Homo sapiens: one gene and its partners. The protein of the gene in region 2 purifies or fractionates together with the protein of the main gene of each other region. This does not show direct contact. Each region holds a gene or a part of one and is shown on either strand. Other genes may lie near its edges.

The links. The genes of interacting proteins can lie anywhere in the genome.
Region 1: the proteins of SLC15A3 (region 2) and CLGN purify together in Homo sapiens (affinity purification with mass spectrometry; 2 studies listed by BioGRID and IntAct, with this or other methods). This does not show direct contact.
Region 3: the proteins of SLC15A3 (region 2) and EI24 purify together in Homo sapiens (affinity purification with mass spectrometry; 2 studies listed by BioGRID and IntAct, with this or other methods). This does not show direct contact.

What each region holds. Positions count from the first base shown.
Region 1 is NC_000004.12:140,403,642-140,410,662, reverse strand, and holds part of CLGN (calmegin precursor), read left to right. Parts: intron 1-36; coding exon 37-110; intron 111-767; coding exon 768-826; intron 827-4,579; coding exon 4,580-4,721; intron 4,722-7,021. UniProt on the Homo sapiens protein: Functions during spermatogenesis as a chaperone for a range of client proteins that are important for sperm adhesion onto the egg zona pellucida and for subsequent penetration of the zona pellucida.
Region 2 is NC_000011.10:60,949,168-60,956,510, forward strand, and holds the start of SLC15A3 (solute carrier family 15 member 3), read right to left. Parts: upstream 3,010-7,343; 5' UTR 2,385-3,009; coding exon 1,827-2,384; intron 1-1,826. UniProt on the Homo sapiens protein: Proton-coupled amino-acid transporter that transports free histidine and certain di- and tripeptides, and is involved in innate immune response. Also able to transport carnosine.
Region 3 is NC_000011.10:125,564,920-125,572,483, forward strand, and holds the start of EI24 (etoposide-induced protein 2.4 homolog), read left to right. Parts: upstream 1-4,557; 5' UTR 4,558-4,654; intron 4,655-5,184; exon of another isoform or gene 5,185-5,271; intron 5,272-5,370; exon of another isoform or gene 5,371-5,523; intron 5,524-7,538; 5' UTR 7,539-7,564. UniProt on the Homo sapiens protein: Acts as a negative growth regulator via p53-mediated apoptosis pathway. Regulates formation of degradative autolysosomes during autophagy.

The DNA of each region.
Region 1 (7,021 bases), on a different chromosome or scaffold from region 2:
ATGAATAACTTTAGACTTGGAAAATCTCTTTTCTAGATTAAATATAAGACACCTCAACCTATAGGAGAAGTATATTTTGCAGAAACTTTTGATAGTGGAAGGTTGGCTGGGTGAGTATTCATTCAAGAGAATGTTTTCTTTGATTTATTAGCTTTTTTGAAGTTATTAGGTTTTGGCCTATGAAAATTATCTCTACTACAGATCTATAAAAAATTTTAAAGTAGTTTAATTGACAATGTAAATCAGTACTTAGTATATTTTTGTAATTGATAGAATGTTTAATTTGAATAGTTATTTATTCAAAGAAAATATACTAATTCCGAATGCAAAGATGAAATTTATAACATTTCTTTATTCTCTAGGACAGATTAACACTCTTAAGTTCAGATGACAAATATGAGTACTGCTCTACTCTAAATAATGGAAAAAACAAAAGTTAATATTAAATGATTATTATGTGTCAGATGTCCTTAAAAAAAGTAGATAATTACCATATTTAATCCCCATTTTACAGGTGGAGAAACCGAGGTTTCTTGTACCTTACCTGTGATCATACAGCTAGTAAATTATAGATTCCAAATTCGGTTTAACTCTAGCCCTTCAGGATTATGTGTAGGCATCCTTATTTAGCATCTAAGTATGAATTTATTGTTGAATGAAAAGTGACTGTATTGGGTGATCTTTTATTGTGTTTCTGTATGCCTTATATCTATAAATTGCTGCTTTTATTGTCAATGACATATATGTATGTTCAACTTTATTTACAGATGGGTCTTATCAAAAGCAAAGAAAGATGACATGGATGAGGAAATTTCAATATACGATGGTAAAATATTTATTTAAGTATTAGATATAACCAGTATGGCCTGGAGTTCACTAAACTTTGAGATTAGATTTTTGTTAAATTGTGTTGGCTGGAGTCCCCCACCCTGCCTCACAATAAAATGTTCAGTCTTTTATCTTGTCCCTCTTCAATATTTCTGAAAAACCCTTCGCTATTTCTGAAAATCTCACTCTTAAGCCAGTTAATCTAGTTTTCTAACTGAACAGTTGAATTTTCACTCTACTGCTGTTAGTCTTTTGCATTTCCTGAAGCAGTATTTCCCAGGCTACTGCTGTCTCTATGGTTTCATCTCAAGCATAGACACACCTTGATCTATAAATTAAATAAATTATAATTTATGGTAAGATTCTCCTAGCAAGTAAAAAGCAGAAGATAGCTAATGAGAGCTACAAGATATGTGGCTGCTTCTGGAATCCTCATCTCCAGGTCTATATCCATTATCATAGGGTGTCTAATAGGATTATCTTCAACCTTAGCTCTAGAAAGAAATGTCCTATAGGCAGGGGTCATATTGTCTTCCCTAATAGGACTACCCTAGAGTATGACCAAATATTTTCTTCTTTGTGGTCTAAAAACCAGCCTCCTTGATTGTTATATGCTGAAGCAAGATCAGCCTCTTCTCACAGTGACTGATAGTGGTAATTTCTTCTTTCTCAGAGGACCTCATACTCATAAACATGTGGCCCTGCACTCAGACTCTGATAAGCAGTTACATCACAACAGCAAAACAGATAGCATGTTGGATGTCAGCTGTCTGCTTCCTTTTCATAGTTTCTGTTTAGTGTAAGATAAAGATCATACCTGCATGTCTTCCTTTGCATGGTGTTCGCCATCCCAGCAAATCCCCTGTGTATATATATACACATATATACATATATACACAAATATATATACATATACACATATATGTGTGTATATATATGTGTGTGTGTGTATATATATATATATATATATATATGCTTATCAACTCCAAAAAGGACACCACCATATGCACAGAAAAAGCAGTAGTGGGATTTCTGGATCAAATAGTAGATCTACTTTCAGTTTTTTAATAAACCTCCATGCTGTTTTCCATAGAGGCTGTATTAATTTACATTGCACCAGCAGTGTATAAATGTTCCCTTTTTACCACATCCATGCCAATTGTTTTTTGACTTTTTAATAATGGCCATTCTTACAGGGGTAACGTAGTATCTCATTGTGGTTTTAATTTGCATTTCCTTGATGATTAGTGATGTTGAGCATTTTCTAAACATGTTCGTTGGCCATTTCTATATCTTCTTTTGAGAAATGTCTATTTATGTCATTTGCCTACTTTCTGATGGGATTAATTTTTTTCTTGCTGATTTGTTTGAGTCTCATGATTCTGGATACTAGTCCTTTGTCAGATTCATAGGTTATTAATATTTTCTCCCACACTGTGGGTTATCTGTTTACTCTGATGATTATTTCTTTCGCTGTGCAGAAGCTTTTTAGTTTAATTAGGTCCCATTTATTTATTTTTGTTTTTGTTGCATTTGCTTTTGGGTTCTTGGTCATGAATTCTTTGCCTAAGCCAATGTCTAGAAGAGTTTTTCTGGTGTTATCTTCTAGAATTTTCATGGTTTCAGATCTTAGGTTTAAGTCTTTAATCCATCTTGAGTTGATTTTTGTATAAGGTGACAAGTAAGGATCCAGTTTCATTCTTCTATATGTGGCTTGCCAGTTTTCTCAGTACCATTTATTAAATAGGGTGTCCTTTCCCTAATTTATATTTTTGTATGCTTGGTCAAAGATCAGTTAGTTGTAAGTATTTTGCTTTATTTCTGGTTCTTTATTCTGTTCCAGTGGTCTATGTGTCTACCTGAGACCATTACCATGCTGTTTTGATAGTATGGCCCTGTATAATTTGAAGTCAGGTAATGTGATGTCTCCAGATTTGTTCTTTTTGCTTAGGATTACTTTGGCTATTCAGGCTCTTTTTTGGTTCCATATGAACTTTTGGATTTTTTTTCCTAATTCTGTGAAAAATGTTTTTGGTATTTTCACAATAATCACACTGAATCTGTAGATGGCTTTGGGCGCTATGATCATTTTCATGATATTGATTCTTCCAATCCATGAGCATGGGATGTGTTTCCATTTGTTTGTGTCATCTATGATTTTTTTCAGCAGTGTTTTGTAGTCCTCCTTGTATAGATAGATCTTTCACCTCTGTTAAGAATATTCCTAGGGATTTTTTTTTTTTTTTTTGCAGCCATTGTAAAAGTCATTGAGTTCTTGATTTGATTTTCAGTTTGGTCGTTGTTGCTATGTAGCAGTACTACTGATTTGTGTACATTGATTTTGTAAGCTGAGACTTTTATTGAATTGATTTTTCAAGTCTAGTAGTCTATTGGATGAGTCTTTTGGGTTTTCTAGGTATGCAATCATATCATTAGCAAACAGTGATAGCTTGACTTCCTCGTTTCCAATTTGTATGTCCTTTATTTCTTTCTCTTGCCAGATTGCGCTGGCTAGGACTTCCAGATAAAGTTGTTACTTCTTAAAATAAGACCTTTATAGGGGGCGAGAGGCAAACTACAAGTTAGTGATAATACAATTCACCATCAATGTGAGAGAAAGAAAACCAAGTACATTAATCTTTTTCAAAAAAATATAATATGACCAAATCAGGGGGAGAAAGAAAAGAAACTTGGAAACTTAATAAAAACACACACATTTTTAAAAGTCTAAAAATGTATGTACAATTATAGACCAAAAATTACCCCTCTTTGATTTATAAGACTGTGTCTGGTTCTTGCATTATTTTTCTTAGAAAGAAAAAAAATGATATAAGAGCATTTGTGATTCAAAAGTGCTCATTAATGAATATTTTGAGTTGACACAATACTGGAAAATAGCCAGTTTTGTCGAATTGAATTTTCTTGGAATAGGCAATACCTATCATTTTCAAAACAGAAGATTTTACACAAACAAATATAAGTTGATTTTCTATTCTAAAACCAGTAAAGGAGTAAAGTCTAACATATAACTTTTGGGCTATAGGTAGCCCACCTAGCTTTGCATTGTATGTGGCCCATAATCTAATTTCAGGAATGTCCTGATCTTAACATGGAAAATTGTAACACAGAGAAGGCCTAACTCAGTTTTGCCTTGTTGTAGCTTAGCACTTATGCAGTGCTTTGCTGCCTTCCTGGCCAAAAGTTCTGAGAGCTGATTAGTGTACCCTGAGAAGGGTTTGTGTGAATTAAGCATGCAGTTTTCAAAATGAACTTTAAATCTTTACAATAACTGCTGCAAGTAAGAAAAGTAGCTGATGAGTATTGTGCATTTCAAAATAAATAGACTACTCATTTTGTGTTATGTGTCATATGCAGTTTCAAATATGTCATTTTGAAAATACAATATTGACATACCCTATTGAGACAAACCACATTTTATAATTTCATTGATTAAAAACTCTTTCATAGAAAAACCAAACTAATTCAGCTTTAAGAGTGACTTAATTAGACACTATAGTGTTTGCTATTAGTTTTCACAACTTTAGTTAAGAAGATGAAATCATTCTTTGATAGAAAAAAAAAGATAAATGAGCAGGCATACATATATAGTTGAAGATATTTCCTGATTTAAAATTTTTATTTTTCCCAAGTCAGGCTTCCTGGATAAAAATTATTGTTCACAACTGCTGATAAATAATTCTTAGGTCAATGTTTTCTGTTTTAGTTTAATTTGCTTTGCTTTATTTTTTAGGAAGATGGGAAATTGAAGAGTTGAAAGAAAACCAGGTACCTGGTGACAGAGGACTGGTATTAAAATCTAGAGCAAAGCATCATGCAATATCTGCTGTATTAGCAAAACCATTCATTTTTGCTGATAAACCCTTGATAGTTCAGTAAGTGTTGCTATGTTTTTGAATACTTTTTCTGAATTTTGTATTAGCTTTGGCTTCTGAATATAGCTTGTATTTTGAAAATGGATGTGAAAATCTAGATCTTCCTTTTTCGTTTCACTTAGTTAAAACACAAATGTGCATATACACACAAACATATCCATGCTTTCAATAAAAAGCAGGTAAATGATAAAATTATACAAAGATCAACCATTCTTATGGCCTAGTACTAATATTTATATTTGTTTATTTCAAGGAGTTGTATGTGGGCTATTAAGCAGCATATTTCCTTTGGTCTGAGTGCTTGTATTGACTAAATGAGGAATAAATAGTTTGGCTCTCTTAAAAAAATTTAAAAATTATGTGATATATACTGTAATATATACAATTCTGCTGTCATAAACTATATAATGCATAGTAAAAATCACCATTTTTGTTTTACTCTTAAAATTACTTGTTATCGCCGGGCGCGGTGGCTCACGCCTGTAATCCCAGCACTTTGGGAGGCCGAGGCGGGCAGATCACGAGGTCAGGAGATCGAGACCATCCTGGCTAAAACGGTGAAACCCCGTCTCTACTAAAAATACAAAAAATTAGCCGGGCGTAGTGGCGGGCGCCTGTAGTCCCAGCTACTTGGGAGGCTGAGGCAGGAGAATGGCGTGAACCCGGGAGGCGGAGCTTGCAGTGAGCCGAGATCCCGCCACTGCACTCCAGCCTGGGCGACAGAGCGAGACTCCGTCTCAAAAAAAAAAATAAAAAAAAAAATAAAAATAAAAAAAATTACTTGTTATCAAAATATTAAACAATATATTCAGAACAGAATAATAAAAATTGCTATTAAACCAGTGATAAGATTCAAAGGCAGAAAATTTATTTCAAAAATAAATGTTTATGAATACCAGTGTCTTTCAAGCAGGGACCCCTTTTAAAGGTCACATTCTCACAGATAATCCTTTCTTTCAACCTCTCCACCTCCCCACCATGCCTGGCATGGTGCCTCATGCCTCATGTGTGTAATCCCAGCACTTTGGGAGGCCTAGGTGGGCAGACAGCTTGAACCCAGGAGTTCAAGACCAACCTGGCAACATGGCAAAACCCCGACTCTACAAAAAAATTTTAAAAATTAGCCAGGCATGGTGGTGCCCGACTGTAGTCCCAGCTACTCTGGAGGCTGAGGTGGGAGGATCACCTAAGCCCAGGAAGTCGAGGCTGCAGTGAGCCAAGGTCACACCAGTGCATTGCAGCCTGGGTGACAGAATGAGATCTTGCCTCAAAAAAAAAGAAAGAAAGAAAAAAAAAGAGGACCAAGAATTGAATAGCAGTCTTTCATATGTTTAAAAACAATTCAAAGGAGAGTGAATGTTTGTCTCCTCTTAATATTGATAAAATGAAATGGGGTAAATAAAATGAAGAGATTTATATTCAATGCTATAAATGCTGATTTACAACATAACTTTACTATAAAGCTGCTTTTCCCAAATTGTATACATGTTAATATATATGAATATAATTAAAGATGAAGAATATCCTAACTCAAAACGTAGGAAGTAAAGGCCTGGCGCAGTGCTTCACACCTGTAATCCCAGCACTTTGGGAGGCCAAGGTGGGTGGATCACGAGGTCAGGAGATCAAGACCATCCTGTCTAACATGGTGAAACCCTGTCTCTACTAAAAATACAAAAAATTAGCCGGGTGTGGTGGCAGGCGCCTGTAGCCCCAGCTACTCGGGAGGCTGAGGCAGGAGAATGGCGTGAACCCGGGAGGCAGGGCTTGCAGTGAGCCGAGATCATGCCACTGCACTCCAGCCTGGGCAACTGGGCAACAGAGTGAGACTGTCTCAAAAAAAAAATAAATAAATAAATAAAAATAAAATTAAAAAAGGAAGTATGTTAGCTCATTAAAGACTGAGAAGTTCTACATATGAAAACCTGTTTTCAGCATTACTACTGTGTTTCCCAAACACATTTGATCACATAAGTTTATTTTCCCACCTAACAGTAATTGCTATTTCATGGAACAATTTGAGAAATGATACTCTAAAGAAATTAAGGTTACCATATACTCTGCATATGTCCTTGGTTTTCCTATGACTGGAAGTTTAGCAGTAGTCAAGCTGTATGATAAACATTTTGTTGATCCTCTAATCCATTGTGAATCATTTATACTAGGTAAAAGTTAATTATTTGAAAACTCTAAAAGTTTGCAGTATAAGAAATGGACAAGGTGATTGAATCTAGGCATAATGGAACAATGAAACTGTGTTCACATTTATGCAGCCACTGTACAAAATTGTTTTTTCCAAT
Region 2 (7,343 bases):
CTCCTAAAAAAATACAAAAACTAGCCAGCGTGGTAGCGGGCACCTATAATCCCAGCTACTTGGGAGGCTGAGGCAGGGAGAATTGCTTGAGCCCGGGAGGTGGAGGTTGCAGTGATCTGAGATCGCACCTCTGCACTCCAGCGTAGGCAACAGAGCGAGACTCCGTCAAAAGAAAGGAAGAAAGAAAGGAAAGAAGGAAAGAAAGAGAAAGAAAGAGAGAGAGAGAAAGAGAAAGAAAGGAAGAAAGAAAGAAAGAAGGAAAGAAAGAAAGAAAGAAAGAAAGAGAAAGAAAGAGAGAGAGAGAAAGAGAAAGAAAGGAAGAAAGAAAGAAAGAAGGAAAGAAAGAAAGAAAGAAAGAAAGAAAGAAAGAAAGAAAGAAAGAAAGAAAGAAAGAAAGAAAGAAAAGAGATGGCCAGGGCTGGCCTGGGGGCATGAAGTCATCATCAAAGGATCCTAAACAAGCTGGACAAGTGACTCCTTGTCAAGGACACTGGAAACTGCTAGGTGCTGAATTGTGGGTGCCAATTGGATGAAACGATCCTTTTGAAAAATGTCCCCTTTATGAGTATAATATGTGCAATCAAAGAACATTTGATAAACTGAGACAAGAAGAAAGTGCAATTAGTCCAGTGGCCTGATCATACCACTGTGACAATCTTTTTCCAGTTTCCTTTCGTTGACACCTCGTCTTTCCACATGGCTGCAGTCCTATCTGTATGCAGTCCTGCCTCCTGCTTTTGCTCATTTACACCATATGTGGTTATTTTAATAATATTACATTTTAGTCTAAATTATTGTCTAATATCCCACTGGGAACAGCTATCAAAATATAGCCGTGTTGTTGGGCATTTACTCATTCATTTAGCAAATACTTATTAAATTTCTTCTACGTGCCATGCTCTGTTCAAGGGGGAACGGAGAAAGGCTCAGAGGTTGAGCTAAGGGAGAAGACCAGGCAGCCCATTCAGGATATAAATGAGTTCTTGCCCATGTGGCTCCAGCTAGTGAAAGGCAGAGCTGGGATCTGAGCAAGTCGGCCTGACAGCCTCTAGCACTGCTGGTAGGAAGAAGCTGGCTTGCTCCTGCCCTGCCCGCACATCCCCATAACACACAGAGAGGAGGTTCATGGTGGGACCTGGAGTCCAGCTGCCTTTACTCGGCTCCTCGACCCTCCATGTCACCTTGGGCAAGTTGATTAATGCCATGAAACCTCTCAGTGTCTTTCTCTGTAAAATGGGCATAATAATTCCTACTTCCTGGGTGGTGAAGAGTATTAAATCAGTTAAACAGTGAAAGTGCTTAGCATAGGGCCTGCAAGTAGCTCAAAAAAGACCAACCTGCCTGGCGTGGTGGCTCATGCCTGTAATCCCAGCACTTTGGGAGGCCTAGGCAGGTGGATCACCTGAGGTCAGGAGTTCAAGACCAACATGGTGAAACCCCACCTCTACTTAAAAAAAAAAAAAAATTACAAAAATTAGTTGGGCGTGGTGGCAGGCCCCTGTAATCCCAGCTACTCTGGAGGCTAAGGAGGGATAATCGCTTGAACCCGGGAGGCTGAGGTTGCAGTGCGCTGAGATCGCGCCATTGCACTGCAGCCTGGGCGACAGAGTGAAACTCCGTCTCAAAAAATAAAACAAACAAAAAAACAACCATGGTTATTCCCACTGCGGTTGCCATCGGTTTTGCAAGGGCTAGCCCCCCTCTTCTTTCAAATCAGGAAACTAGTGCAGGCAGGGGACCTGGTTTGTCCCAGGTCACGCTGGGGGCCAGCCCTCCTTCCCTCCACACCCGCCGGAGTATGCCGGGGCAGGCCTCCTGCCACTCACCTGGTCGGCACCGAAGGAGGTGAGGTTGCTCCGGACGGAGCTGGCGGCCAGGCCGAGTAGCAGCAGGCCCGCGTAGAGGACGGGCGCGCAGTAGGGGCTGGGCGAGGAGCGCGGGCAGCCGGCCGAGGGGCAGGCAGGTCCCAGCGGCGACGCGGGCATCTCTCCGCAGAAGGAGCTGCGGCCGTCGGGGAAGGCGGTGGCGGGCAGCAGGCCCGAGGCGGCCAGGTAGAGCAGCAGGCTGAGCGCGACCGCGCGGTAGCGGCCCAGGTACACGTCGGCCAGCCAGCCGCCCACGGGCGCCAGCAGGTAGGAGGCGCCCAGGAATACCAGCGCGGCGCGCGTCGCCTGCTCGCCGGTCCAGTTGAAGTTGGTGCTGTTGAGGTACAGCACGAGGTTGGCGGTGACGCCGAAGAAGGCGGCGCGCTCCAGCATCTCCACCAGCAGCACGGCCGCGCCCGCCGCCCGCCGCCACCGTCGAGGGCCCCGCGCACCGCGAGGCAGCAGCGGCTGGCGCTCCCCGGGCACGCGGGGCTGCTCCCGGGCGCGCGGCGCGGGCATCCTGGCTCCGGGCTGGGCCCCCCGCGGCTCTTCTCTCCTCTCCTCTCCCCGCCTCAGAGCCCTGCACTCCTGCCCCCGGGCCTCGGCCCTCTCCCCCACCCAACTGGCTGGCCCTCCTTTCTCACCGCTTTGGCCCACCCTTCCCTCCTGTCCCCTCTCCCTTTCTTGCCCTACCCTTCCTGTCCCTCCGCTCACTACCCGGACTCTACCACCTCCTCCCTAATTCTCAACTCCCCTCTCCCTTCCCCCACCCCTAAGGCTTCCTCCCCGCGCCTCTCCTGCAGCTGTTTCTCCCTAACTCTCCCCTCTCCTCCCTCCACCTTGACCCTTCCTCGCACTCTTGTTCACACTGCGACCCTCCCTGCTTCACTTCGCTGCCCCTCCGCCTCCCTTTCCCCTCCCCGTTTGTCGCCCCTTCCTGTTGTCCCCTCTCCTTATGACTCCTGGCCTGCCCTGGGCGTGGGGTGGGGGCTCCCTCTGCCCCAGTCACCCTGCTGCCCCTTGCCGTCTTCTCCACCTCCTCCCTGTCCCCCTCACCCCCACTGCCTACACTCCCCTCTCAGTCCCCTGCAGCCCTCCCCCCAGGCTCAGCCTCTGTCCCTCTCTCGGCTTCTTGAGAAACTCTGGGCTCCCCTCGCTTCCCCTTTCACAGGCCCTATCCGCAGTCCCCTGCCTGCATCACATGGCGCTACTGGGTGTTTAGGAGAAGTGAAAGCCTGGGTCACAGGGCTCCTGCCCGGTCAGCTTTCTAAAAACCTCCCTCCTTCTCTACCTCTGCCTCCTACCCCAAACCCCCGCTGCTGGCCTCCTTAGAGCCAAAAAATTCCAGGAGGAATTTTTTCTTTCAGTTTCATTTCTCGCCAGGATTCCACTTTTGCTTTACCCTCTTCCAATCAAACTCCACGCCTCCACCCGAGGCGCCACGGGTAGAAAGAAGTGGAAAGGCTACCTGCATCATTTGGTCACACTCAGCCATTTCACAGATGCAGAGACAGACCCAGTGGGGCTAGGGCAGGAAGGTGGAGAAAGATTGGTTCCTGGTAACTGAACTAGGGGTGAAGCCCTGCCCCGGGCTCCTGAGTGGCAGGGAAATTCACAGCGCAATTCGGATTGCACAGAGGCTGCTGTGAGGAAGGAAGTGGGGCACTTTCAACAAGCCTGCGGGCCATAGAGGACCACAAGTGAGTCGGGATTGAGAGGGACACCGACCTCAGACTAAATCAGAGTCAGCCTCAGAACTCCTAAGCACCAGCCCCACCCTGACCTAGGAGCCCGGGGGATCTGGCCTCTGCTCTCCTCTGATCTCATCTCAGCCCCATGTTCACTCAAGTCCAGCCAGCCGGCCTCCCAGGTTCCCCTTCCATGCTAAGCTCCTCCCTGCCTCAGGGCCTTTGTCTTTGCTGACCCCTCTGCCATAACTGCTCTCCCTCCATATCCTTGCATGGCTGGCTGCTTCTCTTTATTGAGGTTTCAGCATATATGTCTCCTTTGTAGGGACCTTCCCTGATTTTCCCATCTAAGTAGTTTCCTACTGGATTCTCAGCATCCCCCATCACATTGTCTTGTTTTAATGTCTTCAGAGCACATATTACTTGTTCAGTTAGCACCAGTAGAATAGGCCCTCCATCAGATCAGAGACCTTTTCTAACTCTTCACTGTTTTATTCTCAATGGCTTCCCAGTGCTTGGCAAATAGTAGGTGCTCAATAAGTATTGCCTGAATCAATGAATGGAAAGAGTGTCCCAAGGCAAAATTTGTAAGAATAATAATATCAGGAAAGCTAAAGCTAAATAAACTGAGTCTCACAAAAGCTATAGATACCAGCAAAAAAAGCACTATAGATACCAGCAAAAAAGCGAGGGATTTTTTGTTGTTGTTGTTTGTTTGTATGTTTGTTTTGAGACGAAGTCTCACTCTGTCGCCCAGGCTGCCATGCAGTGGCACAATCTCGGCTCACTGCAACCTCCACTTCCTGAGTTCAAGCAATTCTCCTGCCTCAGCCTTCTGAGTAGCTGGGATTACAAGCGCGTGCCATCACGCCTGGCTAATTTTTGTATTTTCAGTAGAGATGGGATTTCACCATGTTGGTCAGGCTAGTCTCAAACTCCTGACCTCATGATCCACCTGCTTCGGCCTCCCAAAGTCCTGGGATTACAGTTGTGGGCCACTGTAAGTTTTTAACATGTTAGAGAAGCCAGGCCAAGAGGATGGTGAGAAAGCAAAGCCCTCCATCCCAGGTCTTCCTGCAGTCACTGCAGTCAGGACCATGTGCTCTCGTGAGGTGGGCAGAGCCTGGAGGAGAGAAGAGGAGACTTCAATGGAGCTGCACCATCCCTCGACTTGGAGGAAGCTTAGGTCATCAGCTGTGACGGTATGGTGACGAAGTTCAGATCACATCAGATCCAGCTCCTTCCTCTCTTGGCAAGATCACTAGGCTGGCAGATGAGCTCAGACTTAGCCCAGAGAGCTGAGTCTTACCCAGAGAGCTGAGAGAGTGCTGGCCTGCCATCGGTGATGTTCAGCGGGTGGTAGATGAAGGGAAAGGCTTCTAAAAGCAGTGTGGCCTGCAGAGAAAAACCCAGGAGAGGAAAGTAGCAAAGAAAAGAGGAGTGCAGCATCTTTTTTTTTTTTTTTTTTTTTTTTTTTGAGACAGAGTCACACTCTGTTGGCCAGCCTGGAGTGCAGTGGCACGATCTCGGCTCACTGCAACCTCTGCCTCCCAGGCTCAAGCAATTCTCCTGCCTCAGCCTCCTGAGTAGCTGGGATTACAGGCGTGTGCCACCACGCCCGGCTAATTTTTGTGTTTTTTAGTGGAGATGGGGTTTCACCATGTCAGCCAGGCTGGTCTCAAATGCCTGACCTCAGGTAATCCATCTGCCTTGGCCTTCAAAAGTGCTGGGATTACAGGTGTGAGCTACCGCACCCAGCCCAGCGTCTTTCTTACTGCCCAGCCTCCATCTCCAAGGTACCAGGGGGCCAGGTGCTGGGCTGGTTCACTGGGGAAAGTCCTGGGGACACATTTAGCTGGGGAGAAGGTAGGGGTGACTTGCCTCTTGCAGATAGGGGAAGTAATGTTCCAAAAGCGGACATGACTGTCACCCAGGGCACGAGTCACAACACTGATGACCAGTGGGAGGGAGCTGGAGAGCAGAATCTTAGAACTGAGGAGCCCCAGAGCTGGTGGGCCATGGCCGTGACCCACAGGTCTATGTGGTTTGGCTCTGATAGTGTTTAGTTACATGGTGTTTAGTTTTTGTTGTAGCTTCTGTTACTGTTTCTCTTTTTATTTTTTTATTTTTATTTTTTTTTGAGATGGAGTCTCACTGTGTCACCCAGGCTGGAGGCTGGAGTGCAGTGGGGTGACCTCGGCTCACTGCAACCTCCGAATCCTGGGTTCAAGAGATTCTCGTGCCTCAGCCTCCCGAGTAGCTGGGACTACAGGTGCCCGCCACCGTGCCCAGCTAATTTTTGTATTTTTAGTAGAGAAGGGGTTTCGCCATGGTGGCCAGGCTGGCCTCAAACTCCTGACCTCAAGTGATCCACCTACCTCGGCCTCCCAGAGTGCTGGGATTATAGGCATGAGCCACCGTGCCCGGCCATATTGTTTTTTAATTTTAAAACATTTTTGAAGTTTTAGTTATCTCCTTAAAAATTCAGAAGTATTGGCCGGGCACGGTGGCTCACGCCTGTAATCCCAGCACTTTCGGAGGCCGAGGTGGGTGGATCGCCTGAGGTCGGGAATTCGAGACCAGCCTGACCAACATGGAGAAACCCCATCTCTACTGAAAACACAAAATTAGCCGGGCGTGGTGGCACAGGCCTGTAATCCCAGCTACTCAGGAGGCTAAGGCAAGAGAATCGCTTGAACCCAGGAGGCGGAGGTTGCAGTGAGCCCAGATCGCACCATTGCACTCCAGCCTGGACGACAAGAGCGAAACTCTATCTCAAAAAAAAAAAAAAAATCAGAAGTATTAGCATGAAGATCCGGACTTTTGGCTACTCCTGAAATTGCAGAGGATCTGGCATCTCTGGGCCTGCATGCTCACAGAGAGCCAAGGGCAGCAACACTGTCTGGTGCGGTGACATGCTGAAGTGTCCCTGCAGATGCCTTGGTTGGAGGCTGGTGAAAATGAGCCTTTTTACCTGTGCATCTAACACAGCTACTGTTGAGTGTGAGAAGCACAGGGGCTGCGTCATCAGCGAGCTTTCTTAGAGAGATCACAATGAGGATGTTAGGTGAAGTGGCTTCTCGAGTCTCCTAGATTCTCCTGATGGCACTCTGCCAGGGCAGGGTGAGAGACGTCAGATTTTAGGAAGTTCAAAAGTAGGACTTGACTAACCACTTAGGCCCCCAGCTCTACCTTTTAAAACCCAGCACAATTACTTTATGTGGTTGAAAAAAATGAAGCAATGAAACCTTGATCCAACTTTCACTCTCCAGGTACAATTTCTTAGTAATGCACTGGCACCATCCTGCTGTGTTGCCCACAGGTTTTATAGTTCACAGGTGAGCATCAAATACACACAGCCTCATCAAGACTGTGCAAGCAGGACCAAGAGGTGGCCCCTGCAGTTGAGGCAAGGTTATCCCCCAGATCTAGCCAAGGCCTGCCTCACACCTTCAGAACAATTTAGATTTCTCTTATACCTGGCCAACCCACTCTCTACACCTGTAGGGTGATCCTGGGCTTGACAATAGGTGAAAATTAAAAAATTGAGCCACCTGGATAAAAGCATAATAGCCACAGATTGAGGAGAGGCAAAGTAGAGGGAAGGACAGTGACAGTCTGGGGAATTTTTTGACTGCTATGCAGGCATTCATCCACAGCAGCTTCTTATGCTGCAGTGACCAATCCTAACATCCTGCTCACTCCAGGGTGGTCAGTCCCAGCATGCCCTGGTGTGTAGCAGGTGCACCAGGAATTGCAGGTAACCTACCGCTGAATTGTCCACACATCA
Region 3 (7,564 bases), about 65 Mb from region 2:
GCCATTATCCCCAATAAACACTCCACAAAGGGCTATGAAGGGGATGATTTGTCCCAACTAGTACTCTAGCTTCTACCTGATACTTTGTGGGCTCAGGTGATTTTACTATTTCCCATTAACATGTCCAACTAACACTTTTCAAAAGAGCAGCTTTACATGTCTTTGGTTTTATAGTACTAGATAGGGGAAGCATCCTCCAGCTAGATACAATACCCATTTTCATAAGACATTTAGGCAAAGAGATTACAACTACGTTACATAAACCCTGTTTAAACATCTTAAATTTCATAATTCTATTAACCTGTACATTTTTTGGTTCTACCCCCAGATGATTTTACCTTTCCTGGCAAAAAAAAGGGCTTGAGTTCCCAGCAGGGAGTTGCATCTGTAAGACCCATGAGGAATGGCAGTTTTTTTTTGTTTTTTTTTTTTTTGAGACAGAGTCTCGCTCTAGTGCCCAGGCTGGAGTGCAGTGGCACAATCTCAGCTCACTGCAACCTCCACCTCCCAGGTTCAAGTGATTCTCCTGCATCAGCCTCCTGAGTAGCTGGGACTACAGGTGTGCACAACCACACCAGGCTAATTTTTGTATTTTTAGAAGAGACAGGGTTTCACCATGTTGTTCAGGCTGGTCTCAAACTTCTGACCTCAGGTGATCCACCCGCCTCTGCCTCCCAAAGTACTGGGATTACAGGCATGAGCCACCATACTGGCCAACACTTTCATTATTTTCTTTCTCTCTCTCTTTTTTTCTTTTAGCAACCACAGGCAAAACAAAGAGGAGCACTACTTTAATAATGACAATACACAACCTAAATTTAAATGAGAAGACTTTTGTGATCCATAATGGAACACAAATATGGTAGAGGAAAGGGTGTGGAATCGGGCGTTAGACAAACCTGGTTGGAGTTTTTTTTTCTTAATAGGAAGGCATGGAATTTTTTTTTAAATCAGCTACAACAGCTACTCAGGAGGCTGAGGCAAGAGGATTGCTTAGGCCCAGGAGGTCAAGGCTTCAGTGAGCCATGATCATGCCACTGTACTCCAGCCTGAGTGTCAGAGTGAGACTCTATCTCAAAAACAAAAAAAAATAGTGATAATTTTTCATTACAACACTTAAATTGTTGTTGAAATAATAAATATAAAAGGCTTGGTATAGTAGATGCTTAATAAATCATAGTATCTCTCTCTCCTAGAAGATTCCAAGGCTGGAAGCTAGGAGATCTGGCCCCTAATGATGCAGGATTTTTCTTGGCCCCTTTGACAAACTCATGGAAGGGGGCGCCTTGTCTACCAGGCCCACCACAATCAACCACTTGCAGGAGGGAGCACATGAGCAAGCAAGTTCAAGATCCAGCCAGCCACTCTGGGCACTGGCACAGGAGCAAGCTCTGTGTGGGGCCTGTGGCCAGACCAGGCATGTTGCCTCAAGAGGAACACTGCAGTGCCCAGGTGAAAGTGCCCATGACCCTGAAGCCTCAGAGCGGGTGTTACAGTGCTCCTTTAGTTTCATCATCCACAAACAGCAGTGTGTTAGTAGCTCAGTTGGCCCTTTGCCTTGTCACGTGGGGCAGCTGCCTTCCACTGGTGGGGGCAAAGGACCAGTGTGACAGCCTTTCTGGGTACCTGTACTTGGTGGGTCCCAAGCTCTTGTCCAGTGTCCAAGAAGAATGAGGTCACATGCAGGATTGAAGGATGGCGGGCCAGGTGCGGTGGCTCACGCCAGTAATCTCAACACTTTGAGAGCCTGAGGTGGGTGGATCACCTGAGGTCAGGAGTTTGAGATCAGCCTGGCCAACATGGTGAAACCCCATCTCTACTAAAAATACAAAAACTTAGCTGGGCGTGGTGGCAGGTGCCTATAATCCCAGCTACTTAGGAGGCTGAGGCAGGAGAATTGCTTGAACCCAGGAGGCATAGGTTGCAGTGAGCTGAGATTGCACCATTGCACTCCAGCCTGGGTGACAGAGCAAGACTCTGTCTCAAAAAAAAAAACAAAGAAAAAAACAAAGAAGGATGTTGAGGGCAGAGAATTTTTTTTAGTGATGAAAACGAGTCTCAGCAGTGAGGGGAGCTGGAGAAGGGACAGGAAGGGCAGGTCGTCTTCCTCAAAGTCAGGCGGTCTCCCACTCTACTGACTAAGTCAGGGGTCCTTATAGGCACAGGATGGGGAGTATGTGCAGATTGGTTTGTGGCTATGCAAGAAAGGTTAAAGCAAAGGCACCACTCAAAGGTGGGCACAACAGTGTAGAAAACCAATCAGGAAAGGGTAGGTATATGTAAAATAGGTGAAGGGTGGGGATCAATCAGAGGAAAACATGCAAGACAGGAAGACAAGTTCTCAATCTGGTCTGAGGACTTAACTTGTAGCTTGGCTTTCGAGCTTTAAACTGTTTTTGGCTTGGAGGTGGGGTTTCAATGGGGACCCGCCACTAACTGCCTAGGCATTTGGCTGTCTCCTGTCGCTATCACTAGATCTAGTATTGTTATCATTTCACTAAATCATATATCCATACAGTTAAAAAACACCTTCATATATATACCATTTATTTCAGCAGCCTGTGTTAAAGAAACTAAGGTTTGGGCCAGGCGTGCTGGCTCACACCTGTAATCCCAGCACTTTGGGAGGCCAAGGCGGGTGGATCACGAGGTCAGAAGATCGAGACCATCCTGGCTAACATGGTGAAACCCCGTCTCTACTAAAAATACAAAAAATTAGCCGGGCGTGGTGGCGGGCACCTGTAGTCCCAGCTACTTGGGAGGCTGAGACAGGAGAATGGTGTGAACCCGGGAGGTGGAGCTTGCAGTGAGCCAAGATAGAGAGACACTGTCTCAAAAAAAAAAAAAAAAAAAAAAAGAAACTAAGGTTCACAGCTTAACTGGAGGTCATGTCTTCTCAAAGTGCTCTGCCACAAACTTCCTCATTTGTGAAATTTGGAAAATAATATCCTCTACTTGTCCACAAATAGCATCTAATCATACATAAGCATGTGAGAGCTCTTTAAAAATGCAAGGTATTAATTATTATTGGTTTTTATTTTAAATGTGGTTATACATGTTGAGATTTAAAAGATTTCCTCCCGGCCAGGCGCAGTGGCTCACGCCTGTAATCCCAGCACTTTGGGAGGCTGTAGGTGGGCGGACCACGAGGTCAGGAGATCGAGACCATCCTGGCTAACACGGTGAAACCCCGTCTCTACTAAAAATACAAAAAAATTAGCCATGCTTGGTGGCAGGTGCCTGTAGTCCCAGCTACTCAGGAGGCTGAGGCAGGAGAATGGCGTGAACCCAGGGGGCGGAGCTTGCAGTGAGCCGAGATCGCACCACTGCACTCCAGCCTGGGAGACAAAGACAGACTCAGTCTCAAAAAAAAAAAAAAAAAAAGATTTCCTCCCATGAAGTAAGCCAGAATAAACTCATACCTACTAAATTCTTTCTAAAATCTTTTCTAAATTGACACTCTTGAGAAAGAATAGAGCTTGGAGGAAGAGCTATTATTATAATTAATAGCACAATAATCAGTTTGTCATTAAACCACTTAGGTCTCTTTGTAACAAGATTTCTAAGCTTTAGTAGATGGATTCCTTATTCTATTCTATTTTATATTGTTTTGTTTTGTTTTATTTTATTTTATTTTTCGAGACAGTCTAGCTGTGTCACCCAGGCTGAAGTGCAGTAGTGCGATCTCGGCTCACCGCAACCTCTGCCTCCTGAATTGAAGTGATTCTCATTCCTTAGCCGACCAAGTAGCTGGGACCACAGGTGTGTGCCACCATGCCCAGCTAATTTTTTGTATTTTTAGTAGAGACGGGATTTCACCATCTTGGCCAGGGTGGCCTCAAGTGATCTGCCCGCCTCAGCTTCCCAAAGTGCTGAGGTTACACGCATGAGCCACCGTGCCCAGCCACTTATTTTATTTCATTTTTTAAATTTATTATTATTATTATTATTTTGAGACTGAGTCTTGCTCAGTCGCCCAGGCAGGAGTGCAGTGGTGTGATCTCGGCTCACTGCAACCTTCATCCCCTGAGTTCAAGTAATTCTCCTGCCTCAGCCTCCTGAGTAGCTGGGACCACAGGCAGGTACCACCACACCTGGCTAATTTTTGTTATTTTAGTAGAGATGGGGTTTCGCTATGTTGGCCAGGCTGGTCTTGAACTCCTGACCTCGTGATCTGCCTGCCTTGGCCTCCCAAAATGCTGGGATTAAAGGCATCCTGTTACTAATTTCACAGGATTTTAGAAACGCAAGCAGCGTTGTGGAGTCAATGGGGGAGGGCAAAGAACAGGAGGAGAGATCTGTGAGAACGGGATCGGCGAGGAGGCGACGGGGAGGAGGCGACGCGGAGGGGTGAGGGGTCCTCTCCGCCGCCAGGCGGAGTTGGGAGCCGGACGATCCCGCACGCAGCGCGAGGCGGGACCCCGGACTGACTACATTTCCCAGTCTCCGTCGCTCCGCGCGGCCCACCCCTTCGGCTCTGGGCCCCGCCTCGTGGTGCCGGCTGGTTCTTCGCGCTCGCCCGACTTCCCAGCGGCCCCGTGCGGCCCGGGCATGCCCAGTGCGGGCGCAGCGGCCCCGGCCCTGGAAGCGCCCCGGCGGAGCTGGCCTGCGGTGGGCTAGGGGCAGGGCCGGAGCCGCGGCGGCGGAGCTGTGGGTAGGTGCGGGCTCAGCCGAGCTAGGCCTCGGGGCCGCCGCGCCGCCCATTCTGAGTGGCAGGGACCGGGAGGGCAGGCAGGGCCCGAGCGTGGGTTGGTGGGGCTACCGGCGAGGACCCCTTATGGGAAGGGGCCGGAGGGAGCGGGACGGGGCCGGGCACATCCCCGGGCGAGGCTGCCCCAGGTGCGGCGCAGCTATCTTTAGCTCCCTGTGTGACCCGGAGCGTGCGTGATCCGCACCTCGCGTGATCCGTACCTCGTGCACAGTTGTGCCTAGGGAGACCAGTTTTCTGCCGAATTGCCTAGGAGCTGTGGGGAGATGGGCCTGAATGGACCCGTGGACTCAGAGGCAGCCCGTGGAGCCCCGTGGGAAGTGAGGATGTTTACCTTCCCTGTACCTGGAGTGGGCTACGACAGCTTCCTGTTTGCCGAGACTTGGGTTTAGTGACTTAGAAATAAAAGTGTGTCTCAGCAGATGCTTATTAGCTTCTAATGACTGTTGGGAATTTAATGGCATTTGTATTTCCAGGTTTGAGAGGTTATTTGTCCATGGGATGCTCGTGTTAAAACAAAAATCTTCATTGCAAAGCTTAAGTAAAAACAAGTCTCGACCGAGGTAACGTTAGAACACCGGGTTCTGAGGTTCACTGTAGCTGCCATTCATTTGCTGTCAGTCTGGGCAAGTCATTTAACTTCTGAGACTGGGTTCTCTCACCTGTTAAATGAGCCAGATGCATCTTCATCTGTCTAGCTCAGCTGTAGGATTCCCCCTGTGTCATTCAGTCTGTGTGTGTGTTCTCAAATTGTGGCAGGTTATTTTTCCCCATGCCTCAGCTATTTGTCAGACTGGGTAATTCACCAAATATTCCTGTAGGAAGGATGTTAGGATCTAAGTATAAAAGTGAAGTGATTTATCCTTCATAGGTCACTCTTAGGAGGTGTCCTGCCACTTGGTACATGCAGAAACCAGGTGTTAGCTGGCCAGGGATCAAATGACACAGCTGTTGTGGACTGAGACAGAATGTTTCAGGTTCCCTGTCAGTTCCCTGTGAGAAATCCAGGCCAAGTAATGGGCTTCCTTAAACCTCCAAGCTGGCTCACTTTGGTGGGGTTGTGTTTATATAGAATTTTAAGTTTTTTTCATGCTGTTGTGCCCTATTAGATGCAAGAAACCTATGAAGAAGTTTAGTACCCTTAATTTATAGATGAGCCAGTGGCAGGTTACGGGAGTGGATCTGTGAGTCTTTACAAACTAGTGTCGTGCATATCACTGAGCCTTTGCTAGTTATCTAGCTCAGCTGCCCTCACCTCAACCCTGAGAACATGTCTGTATGGCTGTACCTACGCGACTGGAACTCTGAGGTGTTTGTTTTCAGGAGGAAACAGTGGGAGTATTAACAGAAGTTTCTTACCCTAGAGACTTCTATCCGAAGTGAGCCTATCTGTGTAGGATTTGACCTAAGGAGCAGAGGGTATATACAATGTTGGGCAAATTGCCTTCCTACTGCCATATCCCCTGCTCTTCCAGTTCTGAATGGCATTAGTCCAGTTGGGTCAATGAGGAGCAGTTTGGTGAAGTGGTTAAAGGTCGGGGAAAGTGTGCTTATATTTTGAAATTTAAGGTTTGTACAAGCTGCTTGTGAAATTCTGTCTTTGTATTATGGTCATACCTCTTAAACTGAGAATACTGCAACTTGATTGAGTGAGTGTTGAGAACTTTAGAATATCAGGTTCTTAAAAAATGCCTGAAAGTGGGTTTTCTATTCATCTTAGAAGTCACCACAGATTAAATGAGAGAATAGTATATTAATTACAAGTATTTCTCACATGAACTCTCAAGTTCTTAATTTTTGAAACTAGATATCCCATTCACCTGAGAAATAAAATGGGAAAGCCTTACTGTTTTAAAGACTGTTTATACATATGAACTTTTTTGAGGCCTAGTTTAAAATCCACTATTTATTGCATGTTTATTAAAATTGTATCTGTATATATTTAAAGTTAGAAAACAGAAAAGACCAGCCGGGCGTGGTGGCTCATGCCTGTAATCCTAGCACTTTGGGAGGCTGAGATGGATGGATCACCTGAGATCAGGAGTTTGAGATCAGCCTGGCCAACATGGCGAAACCCCATCTCTACTAAAAATACACAAAATTAGCTGGGCGTGGTGGCGGGTTCCTGTAATCTCAGCTACTCGGGAGGCTGAGGCAAGAGAATCACTTGAACCTGGGAGGTGGAGGTTGCAGTGAGCCGAGCCCAGTGTTGCACTCCAGCCTGGGCAACAAGAGCGAGACTCTGTCTCAAAAAATAAAATAAAATAAAAAAGACCTATTTGGAGGTTTTGGTACGCAATTTCATGTCATACCTTAAACTTTACTGTGCCCGAGGGCTCTGTATGACTGAAGCATGTATTTAGTAATTTTTGTAAGAACTTTTATCTTGCTCTTGTATTTTCATTCAAGTATTTGAAGGTATCCAGCAAACATAAAAATTGCTTAAGAAGATATTGAAATGTAATTATCTTCCATCTCCAAACCCTCAAAAGTGCTTAGAATGTGTAGGAGGGATAGTTAGGGGCATTGAGGCTCAGAGGAGGTTACTGGTCAAGAGCACATTGTAAAAATGTAAAATGTAAAAATGAGAGGGTGTAAAATGTAAAACCCCTTGTAAAAATGAAAGGGTGGTGAGTGTTTTAGAAAAAAAATAGGGATTTTAGGTTTCAGCTGTACAGGAATAGCTTCACTTGATTCACTCTATTAGTGCTAGAATCTACTGCTATCTTACTAGAGCTACAAGTATGTGAGGTCATCATGTGGAAATGTGCATGAAGTAACTTATCTTTAAAATAAATATTTGCCTCCATTATGTTCCATCTGTTTCCAGATCCTTCATGATGAGAGATTTGGGGA